Regions from separate parts of the Homo sapiens genome. Here region 2 is linked to region 1. Evidence: fine-mapped expression QTL. Tissue or cell type: lung. Region 1 holds a variant in brackets; the other region holds the start of a gene. All regions are shown on one strand. Distances are between the middles of the regions.

What was found. PIP is the estimated chance that this variant, and not a neighbour inherited with it, causes the effect.
Region 2: LARP4B starts here. The variant in region 1 is fine-mapped to the expression of LARP4B in lung (TOPMed, PIP 0.91).

The regions. Positions count from the first base shown.
Region 1 is chr10:814,062-818,712 of GRCh38, forward strand. It overlaps LARP4B (La ribonucleoprotein 4B), which reads right to left. Exons shown (of 18, transcript NM_015155.3): 15 at 3,664-3,828; 16 at 885-1,009; 17 at 681-789. Among named protein-coding and RNA genes, the nearest start is that of LARP4B, 120 kb to the right of the region's middle. RefSeq lists enhancers at 151-651, 652-1,152. The variant T/C (reference allele first, on the strand shown) is at 2,046.
Region 2 is chr10:928,944-933,594 of GRCh38, forward strand. LARP4B (La ribonucleoprotein 4B) reads right to left here and starts at 2,762. Exons shown (of 18, transcript NM_015155.3): 1 at 2,485-2,762. It overlaps LOC124902363 (keratinocyte proline-rich protein-like), which reads left to right and starts at 3,048. Exons shown (of 2, transcript XM_047426111.1): 1 at 3,048-4,172. The coding sequence starts at 3,184. The coding sequence ends at 3,888. It overlaps LARP4B-DT (LARP4B divergent transcript), which reads left to right and starts at 4,083. Exons shown (of 3, transcript NR_120629.1): 1 at 4,083-4,172. RefSeq lists silencers at 1,953-2,082, 2,173-2,252, 2,283-2,392, 2,463-3,172, 3,253-3,342.

The DNA.
Region 1 (4,651 bases):
AAGTGCTGGGATTACAGGCGTGAGCCACAGCACCTGGCCTCTTTTATTATTATTATTATTTATTATTAAAATTATTAATTTTAACCTATAAAAAATCCTTTTTTAGACTCAGCCCAGGGGACAGTAAGGGATTAAACTCCCAAATTCAAGGAAAAGGCTCCCCCAAGATCAAACTACAGAGGCCACAACTCAGAGTAAGAGAGGCCACAGTTCACCCAGTAGGGAAAACAGCAGAAAGGAAGTCGCTGGGGTTCAGGCCTGCTGGGCCCACAGGGGTTGGAGGCTGGTGGGGCCACCATCTTGCTCTTCCTGTCTCTTCATCAGACACACGATGCGCGCGCACGCACGCAAACATACACACACGCGCGAAATGCTGAAATGATCCTAAAGTCTATGGAGAAACAGGAGCTGGGGTCTTGTTACTACTCAAGAAACCTCTATTGACCAACACTGAAATAAAAGGACTACATGGTGGTCTGAGAAAGAACTAGAGTAGTTAGTGGAAAATTATTAGCAAATATTAAAGGTATTTTGTACAGAAAACACAACACAGACAGACGCAAATAAAAACCCACCAAATTAGATGTGATTAAAAAACGAGCAGGTGCAGGAGTGCGCAGCGTCTGTTCACACCAGAGCCTCGCGGCTGTCGTGCAGGAAGGCAGGCACGAGGTACGTACCGTGGCGGCTCCGTTCACCTGCACCGATTTACACGCGGTCGCAGTGAGGGCGGAAGGAAGTCTGTCCACACTGTGGGTTTCCCTCTGTTTCTCCGCCACCTTGGGATCACTGTAAAAATGCCACCCGATATTTGAATCTCATGCAACATCACAGGCCATTCAAGTCAGTCAACACCAAGGCGCTGGAAGAACACCAATACTCACTCGGGTAAATGAGCTGGGGAGGGGGATCGCTCGTACGTTGCTGATACAGCACAAGAAGCCGGCACCGAGGGCTCTCTGGAGACCACTACAGGAAGGGTGTTCACGCTTGCGTCTGCACTGAGGGTCTGAAACAGGGTCAAGAGTGTTCATCAGAGTCCTGCCGGCACTAAGCGGAGCTGGTACCAGTGCCCGTTCACCCCACCCGTGAACAGCCTTGGGAGAGCAGCACAAGGACATAGGGGAAGAGGGTCTTCTCCAGCAAAAATGTCACAGAGCCCAGGACTATCCTCTGCCCCACAGATCGCCCACCCTTCTCTTTCTCGGCAAATGCCCCACTGTTCTTACATCACAGGCCCTTATCTCCTCTCCCGCAATGATGATCTACAAGCTTATTTCTTAACTGAACAGGCATCAAACACATCTCACCCACCTGGCACTTTGGGCCCAGCACGGCACGGCACAACACCACATGCATATCTGCTGAGTGTCGAATCCTAACACAGTCCAACACAACTCATTCACACCGCTGAGAAAAAACAATCGGCGCCTCCACACCCATATAAATGTGAGCTCCCAGCCCTCCCTGAATTCACAACCCCAGGAAGCAGGTGTGCGAATGCCCCCATCTCAACAGGTGAGGAAACTGAGGCCCAATACCTCTAAGTTAATTTGCCCAAGGCCAGGAAGCAAAGGACGGAGTGAAACTTACTCCCTCCTTACTCCAGCCAGCGACCCCTGTGCAGGGGCTATTTCATGTGTGCTTGATCTTATACATATGGCATGTGATGATACACTTGTCATGCAACTTAAAAAAGGCAGGAGGGCAGGTGCTCTTTACACTTCTGCCCTTAGATGAAGGCTGACGACAGACCTAGAGCCCTTCCAGCTGGAGAACCAGAATCCGCTGCAATTCCTGCGCTCGACCAGCAGGAATCCAGCTTGGTGGAAACAAGAGGGCAAAGGACTCCTTTTGTAAAAGCTCATTTTAAATTCAGGGTAGGGGCCGGGCACGGTGGCTCACGCCTATAATCCCCGCATTTTGGGAGGCTGAGGTGGACGAATCACCTGAGGTCAGGGGTTTGAGGCCAGCCTGGCCAACATGGTGAAACCCCATCTCTACTAATAATACAAAAATTAGCCGGGTGTGGTGGTGCATGCCTG[T/C]AGTCCCAGCTACTCGGTAGGCCGAGGCAGGAGAATCACTGGAACCCAGGAGGCGGAGGTTGCAGGGAGCCAAGGTCGTGCCACTGCATTCCAGCCTGGGTGACAGAGCAAGACTCTATCTTAAATAAACAAATTAACTAATTAATTCAGGATATGTGCAGTCCCAATGCAAATGAAATGCAGATCCACAACTGCAGGTCATGAAGCAAGTCAGAGTGACCATCACGAGCTCCATGTCAACAGGGGAAGGGCTGAACCCCATCATTTCTGGAGCCTCCACCCCACTTTGAAACCCAAGGGCCACGCTGTTGACTCAAGAAGCTCCCAAGAAGCAGCAATGGAGCCCACTACACCTGGGTGGTGGCATAAGGCTCAGGGTCAGGCTTTTCAAAGAAGCAATTCTTTCTTCAAGAGAAACCTTACACAAGACTCAAACTGGGCACAGCAGGAGCTGCTGTTTCTGAAGCAGGGTTGGAGACCTGCCTCTTCTCCTCCACTCAATACCAACGGGAGTAGGCTACAGTTGGAAAACTAGAATTCATGATCTTTAAACTGCATTTCTTCTCAAGGCACTAATACCTTAGAAATGACGGTGTGGAAATTTAAGGCTAATGTGACAATCCTGGAATGTACTCAATCTCCAAACAGGAGCATGACCATCTACCAATATGAAAAGGACTAGACACGTCACCTGGCTTTCATTGTAAAGATACTGCATCAAAATCCACCTTAAATTCTGCCCTAGGAAGTGAGGAATGGTTCTATCTACTGCGGGGCCTTCCCTAAAGCCCAGGGTGGAAGAGACACTGACTCTGCAGACCTGGGTGGGGTAGCAAGCAGCACGGTCATGTGGCGTGGAACAGACACGTGGTAACTCTGGGGCACAGCTGGGGAAAGGGCCCCTGGCACAGGGGACACCGGCAACCTGGAGTGCTCAGCAGGTTCTTCCTGGGCTCTTCCTATGCACAGTAGGTAACTGGGCAGAAAACTTCCTCTGTACTTCCCAGAGCCTTCAACGCCAGGTGTGGCAGCCGGCCAAGTCCCACTTCCACCTCCTAAGCACATTAGAGGCCAGAGTGCTGGGCTGAGTGTCCTCTGTCATCTGCAGCTCGGGACGACTCCTGGGATGATATTCACTGCAGTGGAGGCGGCACCTCGTGGGGCAGCCCAGACCTCACCAGAAGCTACCGACACTACAGTGAGGTTCTCCCAGGCTTCTTGCTCCTTGTCTCATGTAGATTACTACACATTTTAATCATTTCCAATACAATTCAGATGTTTCCATTTCATTCTGTTGTTTTATAAAATAAAGGCAGGTCTGAACTACAACAATGACAATGCAATCTAAGTTTCTGGGTGAGAGAAAGGGTGTGTACGGCACATCATGGCACACGTTTCTACCTCTGACTTCATCAGACAGCAATGTTAAGGAGAAGGCCCAGCCCTGGGTTCAAGGCTGGCCTTACTCCAAATCTGTGTGACCTCTGCAATCACGTGGCCTCCAAGCCTCTCTTGAGTATTAAAAACAAACATGTATAAAGAGCTCAGCAAAGCGCCTGACACGGAACCCGTACCTAGACACTGTTGGCAACTATTAGACATGCAATATATCCCTTACCCTTTCTTTGGATGGTCCTATTATCAAGCTAGATAGCCTGTTTTCAAACAAGTCCTCTGTCTTCAAATTGCCGGCAGCTCCAGGTAATGGAGGGAAGCTGGACAGCCCCAGCTCGAAGCTTGGCGACGGAGGCTTTGGTGGCGTTGGAGACTGTGTCTGGCTGCTCTGCAACAGAATGACACCCCAGGGTCACGGTATGGAGAGAGAAGGCCAAGCAGCTTCTCGTTTCCACACCTGTCTGGAAAATATCTGTAGAAACAAGCAGATCATTCAACCCAGACAAGGGCTTCCTCACTCAATTGAAGGTTCTCCCAAGCAACTTCAACCATCTAGAGCAGAGCTGTAAAACTGAAATCTCAAGGATGCTGCTGCCCAAGAGATGTGTCACAAAGGACACAGTGAGGCTAAGGTGACATCCAAAGAGCTATCCACCCATGGCTGCCAGCACTCACGAACAGCAGGGGCAGCTGAAGGCAAGGGAGACACTCTGGAGTGACTCCAGCCCACCAGATGGAAAGCAGGGCAGCCTGAGTCTAGACATTAAACTTTCTCACTTTCAGACAAGTGTTGTGTTACTACAGCATAGTTTTTAATGTGAGTCACAAGATAATTGTAAAAAACAAAATATGACACTCTCTCCACAACCTGTGTAAGAAATTTTACACACGTGCATCAAAAAAGTGGTTTAACAAAAGGGAAGGGGGCTCGAATTCTCTGAAAATAAACTTAATGAAAGTTTATATTTTTAAATAATTAAAAACACAGGATTTGACAACAAATTCTAATCAGATTCTTTGACTTCCAAGAAAGCAAACTCAGTATAATAAGAAGTGAGTGTACTTTGTAAGCCCAAATCTCAGAAGAAAGGCAGTAATACCTTTTATTGGAAAATGATCTATCAACCCGCTTTAACAAGCTGGCAGTCATTTTGCGAGTACGCAGTTCCTCGGCTGAAGGACACATGGCACAGAAAGGGGAAATGAGTTTG
Region 2 (4,651 bases), 110 kb after region 1:
TTGTCAAAACTTGTGCTTACTTATGGAAATTGCATTAAATTCAATAAATTCTTTAAATCTCACTTTTAAAAATGGCAATCTTCCCGAACATTAAACCAAATTACATTTCTCCCTGAATTTGCTGCCACTTAATTTCAGCTACTCTTCTACAGAATAGTACCCATGTTATCTTTTTTTCTGTCTGGTTCCTACTCAAAAAGAGTGGAACTGCTTTCTCCAAATATGCATTCTGTGCTCAGAAGCTGTTTTCTCTGCCCAGATACATGTGTAAACAAGCCAAAAAAAACAAAACAAAAAAACAAAAACAAAAACAAAACTTTCTGCTAATAGATTGACAGCTACAAGGTAGAATATTTTAAAAATTCAGTAAGCTGGGCGCAGTGGCTCACTCCTGTAATCCCAACACTTTGAGAGGCCAAGGCAGGTGGATCACTTGAGGCCAGGAGTTCGAGACCAGCCTGGGCAACATGCTGAAACCCCGTCTCTACTAAAAATACAAAAATTAGCCAGGTGTGGTGGCATGTGCCTGTAAATCCCAGCTACTCGGGGGGCTGAGGCAGGAGAATAACTTGAAGACCTAGGAGGTGGAGGTTGTAGTGAGTTGAGATCGTGTCACTGCACTCCATCCTGGGTGACAGAACAAGACTCCAACTCGGGGGGGGAAGAAAAAAATCAGTAATAGTGAAAATAGCAAAACCAGACAACATTTCCATGTTTGTGTTACAACAGTCCTAAGAAAATGAGATTATCATCATCCCCCTGTTACAATTGAGAAAATGTAGGCAACACGAGGGTAACTTCTAATGAATAAGCCATGCCTTTGTTTCATATAAATAAGTCAACTCAACTCACATTAACTTTTCAAAATACCGGATAAAATTTATTTCTAACCAATGCAAGTTTCAAAGATAAGTACACAAATTAAATTTATGATTAAATAATAAGCTTGTTAATCTGATGCCTTTCGGAACGCATTTCACTTAGCAAACCTCAATTAAGCTATTTCTTATATGGTTTGATTACAAAACTGCCTTTCAGCATATTAAATACAAGGAGAAAAAACTGAAAAGCCACAACGATTTCAACTTCTGTAAATTACCCTGACTGTAATGAGGGGCGCCAGGCAGGTTGGGGAAGTATGGAAATTGCACACTGCACACACCACCTGACCACCAAGAAAAAAGAGGACACCACTCTTCCCCACTGTGGTCTTCACAAACTACAACTCAGCACCTATTTCAAGTGCATTTAAATATTCAAACAACTGAAACTAAGAGAAAAAAACTTTCGAAAGGGAAAATAACTTGTCTGTCCCCTTCAATGTTCACCTTGGAGTTGCTCTCATCTCTAGAAAAAGGCCTCACGCATACTGTTTATACTTACAAACTCCACTGCCCTGTCAAGGAAAACCTTCCTGTTTTCTCAGTTATCCAAAACTTCAAACTTCCAATTTACTATTAAGACAAGTTATTGGGCATCCACTTAGAGAATCTCAAACGAAAGCCAGATAGGAGGTAGTTTTCTACAGCTAGGTTTCTCAAGTTTCATCTCAGCCAAGTTTTAAGAACGTTTTACGTAAAAATAAGGGGAAAAGCAAAATTACATTCGCATGAAGTTTCGACGCACAACGGCACTGAAACGGAAAGACTCTTCACGTTCCCAAGCGCACCCTGAGAGGCAGGTGCAGCAGCTTTCCGATGGCTTCTCTGCCGCCCATGTATCCCAGCCCCAAGACCAACACAGGCAATCTTCACATCTGACTTTATTTTTTTAACTCCTTCAGATCCACCTCTGCTCAAGTCTATCAACAGGAAAACAGGAGCGTTCCAAACACACACCGAGCAACAGGATCCCAACTTCCTGGTTCTAAAGGAATGCGATGCCCTGATGACCCGTCCCGCCCCGCACCCGCACGGCCGCCTATCCGGGCTCCGGCGGGACCGAGGAGCGAGTGGCAAGGCTGGCGCCGCACTGCGGGTGCCGGCGCCCGCCCGGCCTGGGGGCGCTCGCGGCCCGCGACCCCGGCCCCGCCCAGGCCCTGCCCGACCCCCGTCCTCGCCGGCCTTCGCCCAACCCCGGCCTCCCGACCCTGACCCCGGCCCGGTCTTCCGGGCACCCAGCTCCGTCGACTCCCGCCTCGCCTCAACGGGTCCTCCTAAGCCCCGGCCCCGGCCTTCCCCTGCCCCGGCCTCGGCCATCCTCAGCCCCAGTTTTCCCCTGCCCCGGCCCCGGTCCTCCTCAGCCCCGGCTTTTTCCTGGCCCTGACCCCGGTCCTCCTCAGCCCTGGCCCTTCCCGTGCCCTAGCCCCGGTCCTCCTCAACCCGGCCCCGGCCTTCCCCTGCCCCGGCCCCGGCCCCGGCCCAGGCCCGGCCCTGCCCGCCGCGGCCGCGTCCTCCGGGAAGATGGCGGCGCAGTGACAGGCGGCGCGGCGCGGGTCCGAGCTGGGCCGGGAGGGACGGCCCGCCGCGGCCCAGGGTGCCTCACCTGTCAGCGCCGCCGCCCCGCCCGACCGGCCGCCCGCGGGCTCCTCGCCTCAACCCCGGGGCCCGGCGGCCGCGCCACACGCGGGGACGGCGAGGAGAGAGACGGCAGGGAGAGGCGGCGCGGCCGGGCCGGGCCGGGCCGGAGGTAGGGGAGAGGGCGGGCGCGAGCTGGCGGCGGCGGCGGCGGCGGATTCTTCCCCTTTCGGGCCCGAAAATGTCTCAACCCCGGGACTCCAGATCCCCAACGCTCCTTCCCGTTCGCATGAGAACACACAGCTCCCACTTCCGGGGCCCTGCGGAAGTCCCGCCCCCGCGCGGACCCGCGCCTCGCGCCCTGAACTCGCGCACTCACCCGCCGGTCCCGCGGACTGGCGCTCAGCCCCGGGAGAGCCTCACGTCATGGTGTTGCGGCGCGCTGATTGGGCGCACCCGACGCTCGGCCCGCCCCGCCGCCTTCTTGGCCTCTCCGCGCGTACACCCTGCTCGCGGCCTTGCGATTGGCGCGTGCGCGCACATCGCCCCGCCCCGCGCACGCCGCACGTCCGCCCCGCCCGCCCCGCCCGCCCCGCCCGCCGTCCCCGGCGCGACCGGAGCGCCTGACGCTGGGGGGCCGTGTGGGCCCTGACTTCCGGAGGGCTGGGCCCTGGTCCTCCGCCACCGCGTGCGCCCCTTAAAGACCCCTGCCCGCCGCCCAGGACGGATGGCGACCCCGGCCCTAGCCTGTCCCCAGACCCTGGACCAAGGCCCCGGCCCTGCCCCGAACCCCTCATCCCACCCCCAGGACCCAGGCCCCGACCCTGGCCACCCAGGACACGCCCTGGCCCTTCCCCGAACTCCCACCCCACAGCTGGGATCAAGGTCCCGGCCCTGCCCGGAACACCTCACCCCACACCCGGGACCCAGGCCCCGGCCCTGCCCCGAACTCCCACCCCACACCCGGGACCAAGGCCCCGGCCCTGCCCCGAACCCCTCACCCCACCCCCGGGACCAAGGCCCCGGCCCTGCCCAGAACTCCCACCCCACACCCGGGACCAAGGCCCCGGCCCTGCCCAGAACTCCCACCCCACACCCGGGACCAAGGCCCCGGCCCTGCCCCGAAGGCCCCACCGGGGACCCAGGCCCCGGCCCTGCCCCAAACTCCCACCCCACACCCGGGACCAAGGCCCCGGCCCTGCCCCGAACGCCCCACCCGGGACCCAGGCCCCGGCCCTGCCCCAAACTCCCACCCCACACCCGGGACCAAGGCCCCGGCACTGCCCCGAACGCCCCACCAGGGACCCAGGCCCCAGCCCTGTCCCGAACTCCCGCCCCACACCTGAGACGAAGGTCCCGGCCCCGAAGTCCCAACCCCACACCCGGGACCAAGGCCCCGGCACTGCCCCGAACCCCCGCCCCACACCCCTAACCAAGGCCTCGGCTCAGCCCCGGAATCCCCAACCCCACACCTGGGATCAAGGCCCCGGCCCTTCCCCAAACCCCCAACCCACACCCGGGACCAAAAGGCCCCGGCCCCACGTTTCCTAGAGGCGCTGGGTTCGGGCCCACGTTGCAACGAGTCAGATGCTCTTGGTAGCTCAGGGAGGTGTTCACACTCCTGCCGTTTCCGTGAGGATGGTGACGACTCCGAACTATAGCAGCATACTCTACCTACCCCTGATCAGTTTATGGAAGAAAAGGAAACCAAACAAAGTATGTTGCGTTTCCCTTAAGCTTGCTGCCTGATTTTCTGGTTTCTGCTCTGATTGGCTACATATACACATATTATCAATTATTCCAAATTTTAGGTTTGTTCCCCCATTAAAACGGCTTTTCAGGGATACCATATTCATGGTTAACCGTGTACCTGTGCTTACAACTGCTTTTTTAATTTTGTTTTTTGATACAGGGTCTTGCTCTATGCAGGTCTGCACTCTGAGCTCAGAGTGCTGTCTCGGGCCCCCAAAATCTGGGATTAGAGATGGGAGCCGGTGTACCCAGCCTGTGCTTATAATTTTTCGTACTCAGCGTTCAAATGCTGACAATTCTGCATTTTGGAAGAAAGCCTCTCCGGCTTCCCATAGTGGGTAGACTGTTGACATCAAGGTTGGGTGCCTTCTTTGTGAAACCTTGTTGCATCCTAGCTTTAAGGGAATTTGCAAGTTAAATAATTATATTCATAGTAATGTTTT